Linked DNA regions of Homo sapiens: all the other regions are linked to region 3. The links come from fine-mapping of genetic effects on gene expression. A gene starts in region 3. Each other region holds a variant in brackets. All regions are shown on one strand. Distances are from middle to middle.

Region 1 (2,500 bases), 28 kb after region 3:
AAGTGCTGAGTCCTAGCCACAGTCAGTCCCGCCTACTGCTGGGTGAAATCTGATGGTGGCACTTCAGGAATCTGTCCCCAAAATTGAGCCAGTATATGGATGGGGGCAGGCTTCTTCAATGGCCCTGGAATCACTCCAAGTAGGAACAGATACAACTCCTAAAGGAGAAATGGTCTCGTGCTGACTACCAGCTATTTTTGCTTCCTCTTCCGATTTGCCAGTGTATGGCACGGGTTTCTCAGCGCAGATTTCACCTCCACCACCTCAGTCCTCTTGGATTTGGTGGGACTGGATTTTTCTCTCTGCATCAGATGTGAACAGGAACTACTGACACATACTGAGAAACTGCAGTTGGTCTCCAGAGCCACACTCTTATCCCCACCTGCCATCTGGGAACAGAAAATGGGAGTCCGCCCAGCCTCCCCTGGGCTGCTTTCTGGGTAGGGGTCACCTCCAGCAGGAAACTACACCCCAAAAGGTGTCACCCTCCATTCCTCAGCTCACATTCTCACAGCCTCTTTCTCCTCCCTCCCAAGGGAGGAGAATTAATTATTCTTGCTGCCAGGCAAGCCACTCTGTCTACACTCGGCCCATCCTTGCAGCGGCCTTCTGCCAAAGGGAATGGCAGCGCAGGCTGGCGTGCTTGAAAATCCGCATTCCCCACACAGATGTGTGAATGTGGGTGCTGAGTGAGGTTGGAGCTCAGAGGATGCCATGTCTAAAATATCCATCCGGCATTCAGGCATGCCTGGCCAAACCTCTCTTCCGCCCTCCTCCCCCACTCCCTTCTTCCCTCTCACAGTTTGGTAAGTGACTCTGTCTCTCTGTACACACACACACACACACACACACCCTGTGAAACCATCACCACAATTAAGTTAGTGAATAATTCGTCATCCCCAAAATTTCCTCATGCCCTTTCGTGATCCCTCCCACCTTCCCTCACCCCCCGCCATTCCCAAGCAACCCCTGATCTGCTTTCTGCCATTATAGATTAATTCACTACAATGTGAACTCTTTTTTAAAAATCTGAATTCTTTCACTCTGCATAATTATTCTGAGATTCATCCATGTTGTTGAATGTATAAATAGTTTGTTCCTTTTTACGTTCCGTGCCACTGTATGAATGTACCACAGCTCATCTACCAAAAGAGTTGAATATACCACTGTATGCATATACCACAGCCCATTTACCCAGTCCCCTGTTGATGGACATTTAGGTTATTTTCAGATTTGGGCTATTATGGATAAAGCTGCTATGAACACTCACGCATGAGTCTTGGTGTGGACATATGCTTTCATTTCTCTTGGGTAAATACCTAGAAATGGAATGACGGGATTGCATGGTACATTCATGTTTAACATACATACACAAATATTTTAATTGTGG[TA/T]AAAAAACACGTAACAAATTTTAAGCACACAGTTCAGTAGTGTTAACTATTTCATATTGTTGTGCAGCAGATCTCTAGAACTTTTTCATCTTGCAAAACTGAGCCTTTACACACATTGATCAACAACTCCCCCTTTTCTCCTCCTCCAGCCCCCAGCAACCACCATCCCACTTTCTGTGCTGATGATTTTGACTACACTAGGTACTTCATATAAATGGAATCATGCGGTATTTGTCTTTTTGTGACTGGCTTATTTAACTTAACATAATGGCCTCAAGGTTCATCCATGTTGTAGCTGTAGCATGTGACAGGATTTTCTTCCTTTTTTGAGACGGAGTCTCGCTCTGTTGTCCAGGCTAGAGTGTGGTGGTGTGATCTCAGCTCACTGCAACCTCTGCCACCTGGGTTCAAGCGATTCTCCCGCCTCAGCCTCCTGAGTACCTGAGACTACAGGCACACGCCACCACGTCCAGCTAATTTTTGTATTTTTAGTAGAGACAGGGTTTCACCATGTTGGCCAGGATGGTCTCGATCTCCTCACCTCGTGATCTGCCTGCCTCGGCCTCCCAAAGTGCTGGGATTACTGGGGTGAGCCACCGCGCCTGGCCGATTTTCTTCCTTTTTAGAGCTGAATATATTCCACATGTTCTTTGTCCATCCATCTGACAAAGGACACTGGAGTTGCTTCCATCTTTCGGCTATTGTGGATAATGCTGCAGTGCCCATGGATGTCTCTTCCAGATCCTATTCAATTATTTTGGATATATAACCAGAATATATGTTTGACTTTTTAATAAACTGCCAAATTGTTTTCCAAAGCAGTTGTACCATGTTTCATTCCCACCAGCAGTGGATGAGCGTTCCCATTCCTCCAAAACTTTTGGGGTTTTTTTTGTTTTTTTGTCTGTTTTTTTTTTTTTTTTTGAGATGGAGTCTCGCTCTGTCACCCAGGCTGGAGTGCAGTGGCATGATCTCGGCTCACTGCAAGCTCCACCTCCTGGGTTCACACCATTCTCCTGCCTCAGTCTCCCGAGTAGCTGGGACTACAGGCGCCCGCTACCACGCCCAGCTAATTTTTTGCATTTTTAGTAGAGACGGGGTTTCGCCAT
Region 2 (2,500 bases), 38 kb after region 3:
AGTTCCAAGAGGGCCTGCAGGCATCCTACCTCCCAGCCTTAGGTAGCTCCTGCATGAAATGAATTAAGGGTCTCTATCAAAGGCCTTCCTTACTCCGAACTATTTTCTATTAGCATGATAATGACCTGATAGTACTAGACTGTAGACTGTCCCCAGAAAATCTTTTTTATTATGCACATCAAGTGTCTGGGTTGCATAACATACACTCCATTATATCTTTGCAATAACTATGAGAGGACCTGGGGATCTGCTTTTTTAAAAACTTCCCTGAGGACCACATTACCCAGGCTCCCTTGCTGGCTGAATGCCGTTTGTACTGGTGGTGGGGGAGGCACAGCAGGAGATCAGAAGTTGGGTCAAGGGTATTTCTCCCCACAACCCCAGCCCCCCTCTCATCCCTCCCTGCCTTGGGACCACTCTGGCAGTAGCTGGGTTTCTCCATGACCACAGCTGCAGGTATTGAGAGAGCAGGGCCTGAGGCATTCCTGCTTTTAATGTTTGCACTCTCTCTCACATCAAGCATATTAAAATTTACCTGCTTCCCACATTAAGTATAATTTTAACCATAAAACTTTTTGAAAGAGTTTGTATAAATTTAACAATTTTGAGCTTAGGCATAAGTTATGCATTTTGTTCACATAATTTAAACTTTTTTGCATTTACATATAACTCTATAAAAGTCGGAGTTTCATTTGACTCATGGGCATGATGTTACTTAGATAAATATTCATTGATTATATTTTAAAAAAAGTTTGCTGGGAAATCCAATCCTCAGCCAGGGTTGAGAACCACAGCGCGGGTGTGTCCACCTGCGGAGCTGAGCAGGCCACCATGTTGGAGGACCGAGGTCAGGCCCATAATGAACCATCTACTTAATCTCTTTGCCTAGGGAGAGCCCTGCTGAAGACTCAAACTGGGTGAATAAGGTCTTCAAGAAGAACAAGCAAAAGACAAGTGGCACCAGAAAAGGCTTCCCAAGACAT[T/C]CGGGATCCAAAAAACCAAGCAGCAAAGTGCAGTGAGCATGTCTAATGTTCCTTAAATCCCACGGAGAGGAGCAGCTTTGGGAACTGTGTTCAGAGAGATTCCGAGGAATAGAGGAGAGTGTAAGGGAGTAGGGGGTGCAGTGGGAGATTGGGCTTTGGAACAGACACATCCGACATAAAATTCCTGCTCTGCCACAGCTCCACTCAGGGATCATGGTTGGGACACTTGCTCTCCCTGAGCCTCCATTTCCTGTAAAATGGGGATGATACCACTTCATAAAGTTGTGAGAGTTAAATGTGATCGATGATGTAAATTGCTTCATAGAATGCAGAATGTGTAATAGCTCACAATAAGTAGGTATTATGTTTACATATTATGTTTGTATTTATGCTACTTAAATACAAAACTGGACAGGCCAGGCATGGTGGCTCATGCCTGTAATCCCAGCACTTTGGGAGGCTGAGGTAGGTGGAAAACCTGAGGTCAGGAGTTCAAGAACAGCCTGACCAACATGGTGAAACTCCATCTCTACTAAAAATACAAAAATTAACCAGGCTTGATGGTGTGCACCTGTAATCTCAGCTACTCGGGAGGCTGAGGCAAGAGAATCGCTTGAACCCAGGAGGCAGAGGTTGCAGTGCACCAAGACTGCGCCATTGCACTCCAGCCCGGGCAACAAGAGCGAAACCCCATCTCGAAAAAAAACAAAACAAAACTAGACAAGTGAGTGCCTACGTGACACTCAAATGTTGCCAGCATACAGTTAAGGGCCCTAGTCAATGTAGGCCTGCTTCTTATAGCTTTTTGACTATATTATGCTGTCTTTGACTTAGTCAGTCAACACTTATTGAGCACCTACTAAGTGCCAAACACTCTCCTGGACTCTGGCAAAATAAAAAATGAATTAAAACTCTATCCCCAAGTTTCAACAGTTTACTCCTAGTCTAACTTTAGATCAAAGATAAGACTAAAACCTAAGAATCTGATGAACTTTGAGTCCCACCTAAACCAAGTTTTAATTTTTTTACCGAGTCATCATATTTTAAGTAAAGCCCCATGCATGTATACAAACAGACTCGCAAATTCAAAATGAGAGCCTCAGATTCAAACCAAGTCGGGTATTATTTACAGTTATTTCATTGGGTTATCAAAGTATTTTCTGAATTGGCCAGGCATGTTGACATGTGCCGGTAGTCCCAGCTATTCGGGAGGCTGAGGCAGGAGGATTGCTTGAGCCCAGGAGTTGGAGTCTGGGCTGGGCAACATAGTATTCTCTGAATGGAACAGACCTGCACTGCTATATAATTTGCTTCAAGTCTTTGTTGGTCAGAAAAACCTCTAATCATTCTGAGCAACATCCTTCCTGGTTGTTCTTGTCCCAAGTGGGGTCCCTGGATGGGCACAGGGATTTATCAGACAGACAAGGGTCAGAGGCTCACCCGGCGGCCAAAGGCTCATCTCGAAGTCTAAGCAATGCACTTGATGAGTGGTGGGAAGCAGTATGGTAGCGGAGATT
Region 3 (2,803 bases):
AGAGTTGGGATCCAATGTCATGACTCAGAAGGGTTCTCATCCAAAGCCCTTCATCCTGTGAAACAGGTCCCATTACACCCCTTCCCTTCTCTGCAAGGGGCTCTTGCTGCTCCTCGACCAGTGCCTGCCTGCTCCTCCCAGCTGCCTCCAGTCCCGCAGCCCACACCTCCGCCGCACAGCTCCTCAGATGTTCCAGCCCACACTGCTCAGCCCCGCCTCCTAACTTTTCTGGCAGGAATCTCAGCCCTGCACAGTTTAGTACTTAATTATAGATTGCCTTGTACAGTTTTCTGCTTATTTCACATTTGCCTGTCTTGTTCCCAAGAAGCCTGCAAATATCTGATTTGGGGATGGAGCTTCTGTGTGCTCCTGTCCCCCAGGGCCCCGACACAGCACAGGGCTTGGCACACAAGCCCTCAGTGGAGCTGACCTCACCTCCCAGGAAGGGGGCAGGGTCTCTGCTGTCCAAAAGCTGACTGGACTCCACCCTGACACACCCGCCCCCACCCCAGCAGTATGCCTCAGATATCTGCACACACATGCACACATGCATACACACGCATGTACGCACACACACTTTATCTAATCTAAAGCTCTCTTTTCAACCTGAGGCAATGATATGCCTGGAATTACCTACCCAAGACAGAAAACTCCCTCCTAACTGAAGCCTGGCCTTGCCCTCACTGTGGAATTCCCATGCAGATAAGTGAGTCCACCAGAATGGTGCAAGCTCCCCAGAAGCGGGGAAGCCACTGATGTCACATCCTGGATTGGCACTTGGTGGAGGCCTTGGTGTCTTGATTCTGATTCTGGTCCTGTTGCTGTGTGGTCTTTGAGGGGAGCGGGAGACGCCATCTTGCCTTCTTTGTTATATCTCCATGAGGGGACATTTTGTGGGTGTGAGAACCACTCCTCCCCATCAGGACCACATGATACAGCCCCTCAGGGGGCAGAACCGCAGCCCCTGGAGCTAACCCTGGTCCTCTCACACCACCTCCCTTACCAAAACGTCTCTCTGCCCTGACCCCGACGTCCCCACAGGTGACCTCCCCAGCTGCTCCTCCTTGGGGTTAAACATTGCTATCTCAAACTTCTCATTTCTGAGCGGGAAGAAGAACACGCAACACGAAGCCTCACACACTTAGAATGATCTAGATTTCAGGTTGATTTCTTCCTGCACACTTAGAAGATAGCATGAGGGCTTGGGGCTTGTCGAGAGGGCACTGACCAAGGTCACAGGGTCAGTGAAGGGCCCAGGAGAAGAAACAGAGAGAGGTGCAGAGGCGGTGGTGGGTGGGGCCGCCAAAGTCACACTTCTCTTAAAATTTTACCCAGGGCCAATGCTAACATGTAAATAAACAAGTGAATAAACAAAGGGGTGTTTATGTAAGAAAAACAAATAAAAATGCTTGTGTAACACATCACACATACCACATAGCCTGAAGGAGCCCAGGAGGGGCATCTCTTTTGGGGGACCCGTCCAAAAGAGATGGGGTAGGCACCGTCCTCCTGGAGGGAGGCGGGCTTGGAAGCCCTTCACGGCCGCAGCAGCATGTTGGGGAGGGAGGTGTACACCGATAACCATCACGGAGGTTTTGCAACTGAATGTTGCAGCTGAGGGCTGGGCAGAGCCCGCCTCCTTGGGCATGGCCCTGTGCTGGGGAGCAGTGAATGCGCCCTGGTATACCATGGATGGGCAGAGGGCTGAGGATCCCGTGCCCGAGATGAATCTAGCCAAGAAATGAAGCCAGTGGGGGGCTCACAGGACCAAGACCCTGCTCACACACCGGGGGAGCCTTCTGCATCTCATTCTGGGGCCCCTTTCCAACCTTTGGAGTTGCCTCCTGGCGGAGCTTAACAGGCTGAGGCAGCTTCCTGAGCAGCCTGTGGTTGCTCCAGCCGGGTAGAGACAGCCACATTCCAAGCTCCGGGGTGGCAGGGAAGCTGGGTAGGGAGTTCCTACAGGGAGCGGCAGCCCAGGCTCGGGCAGGCAAGTGCTGAAGGGTGGCTCCGCCTTCCGCAGAAAGTCAGAGGCCGAGGAGATGGAAGAACAGGTGTTCAAGGGGGACCCGGACACCCCTCACTCCATCTCCTTCTCGGGCAGTGGATTCCTCTCCTTCTACCAGGCGGGGGCTGTGGACGCCCTGCGGGACCTGGCCCCCCGGATGCTGGAAACAGCCCACCGCTTTGCGGGGACATCGGCAGGTGCTGTGATCGCCGCCCTGGCCATCTGCGGGATTGAAATGGGTGAGGCCTGTGTTCTGGGTCCCCTGGGAAGTCTCTTGGGGGATTCCACAGAGACAGAAGGAGCGTGAGGGAGGCTGGGGATGCTTTGGGGGACAAAGCCAGGCCTGGGTGGCAGGAAGGGAAGGGAAGAGCTGGTTGGAGTAGGATAGCGGCAGCTGTGACGTTTGAAGGTTGGGGTCTGCCAGGCCCCAGACTCTAACATGCAGGGTGAGCCTGGACCCCTGTCCCTCTCCCTCAGTGCCCTTACCTGTGAGATGCTCTGTCTCCCAGTGCCTGGGAGAGTAAAGGACAGTATCTCCCTCGAACATCGAACATGGTGCTGTCAGAAGCTACACCACGGCACAGTCATACATTGGGGTTCAGTGTTGCTCCTGCCTGGCCTCTTTCAAAATGCAAATACCCTTGGGAGAGGCAACTCTTCAAATCTCTATCACCCTGATGGGGACGTATTGTCCACCATTTCCAGGTGGCTGGAAAGATGAACGCCCTGAGGCTGGAGGGGTAGACAGGAGGGAGCCCAGAGTGGGAGAAGAATAGGAAGGGGTGGGGAGAGAAT

The links.
Region 1: its variant is fine-mapped to the expression of PNPLA1 in blood mononuclear cells (TOPMed, PIP 0.90).
Region 2: its variant is fine-mapped to the expression of PNPLA1 in whole blood (TOPMed, PIP 0.95).

The regions. Positions count from the first base shown.
Region 1 is chr6:36,297,038-36,299,537 of GRCh38, forward strand. All of the region lies in intron 5 of PNPLA1 (patatin like domain 1, omega-hydroxyceramide transacylase), which reads left to right. Among named protein-coding and RNA genes, the nearest start is that of PNPLA1, 28 kb to the left of the region's middle. The variant TA/T (reference allele first, on the strand shown) is at 1,391.
Region 2 is chr6:36,306,698-36,309,197 of GRCh38, forward strand. It overlaps PNPLA1 (patatin like domain 1, omega-hydroxyceramide transacylase), which reads left to right. Exons shown (of 9, transcript NM_001374623.1): 8 at 890-1,015. Among named protein-coding and RNA genes, the nearest start is that of BNIP5, 29 kb to the right of the region's middle. The variant T/C (reference allele first, on the strand shown) is at 984.
Region 3 is chr6:36,268,418-36,271,220 of GRCh38, forward strand. It overlaps PNPLA1 (patatin like domain 1, omega-hydroxyceramide transacylase), which reads left to right and starts at 1,643. Exons shown (of 9, transcript NM_001374623.1): 1 at 1,643-2,247. The coding sequence starts at 2,043. RefSeq lists an enhancer at 1-337.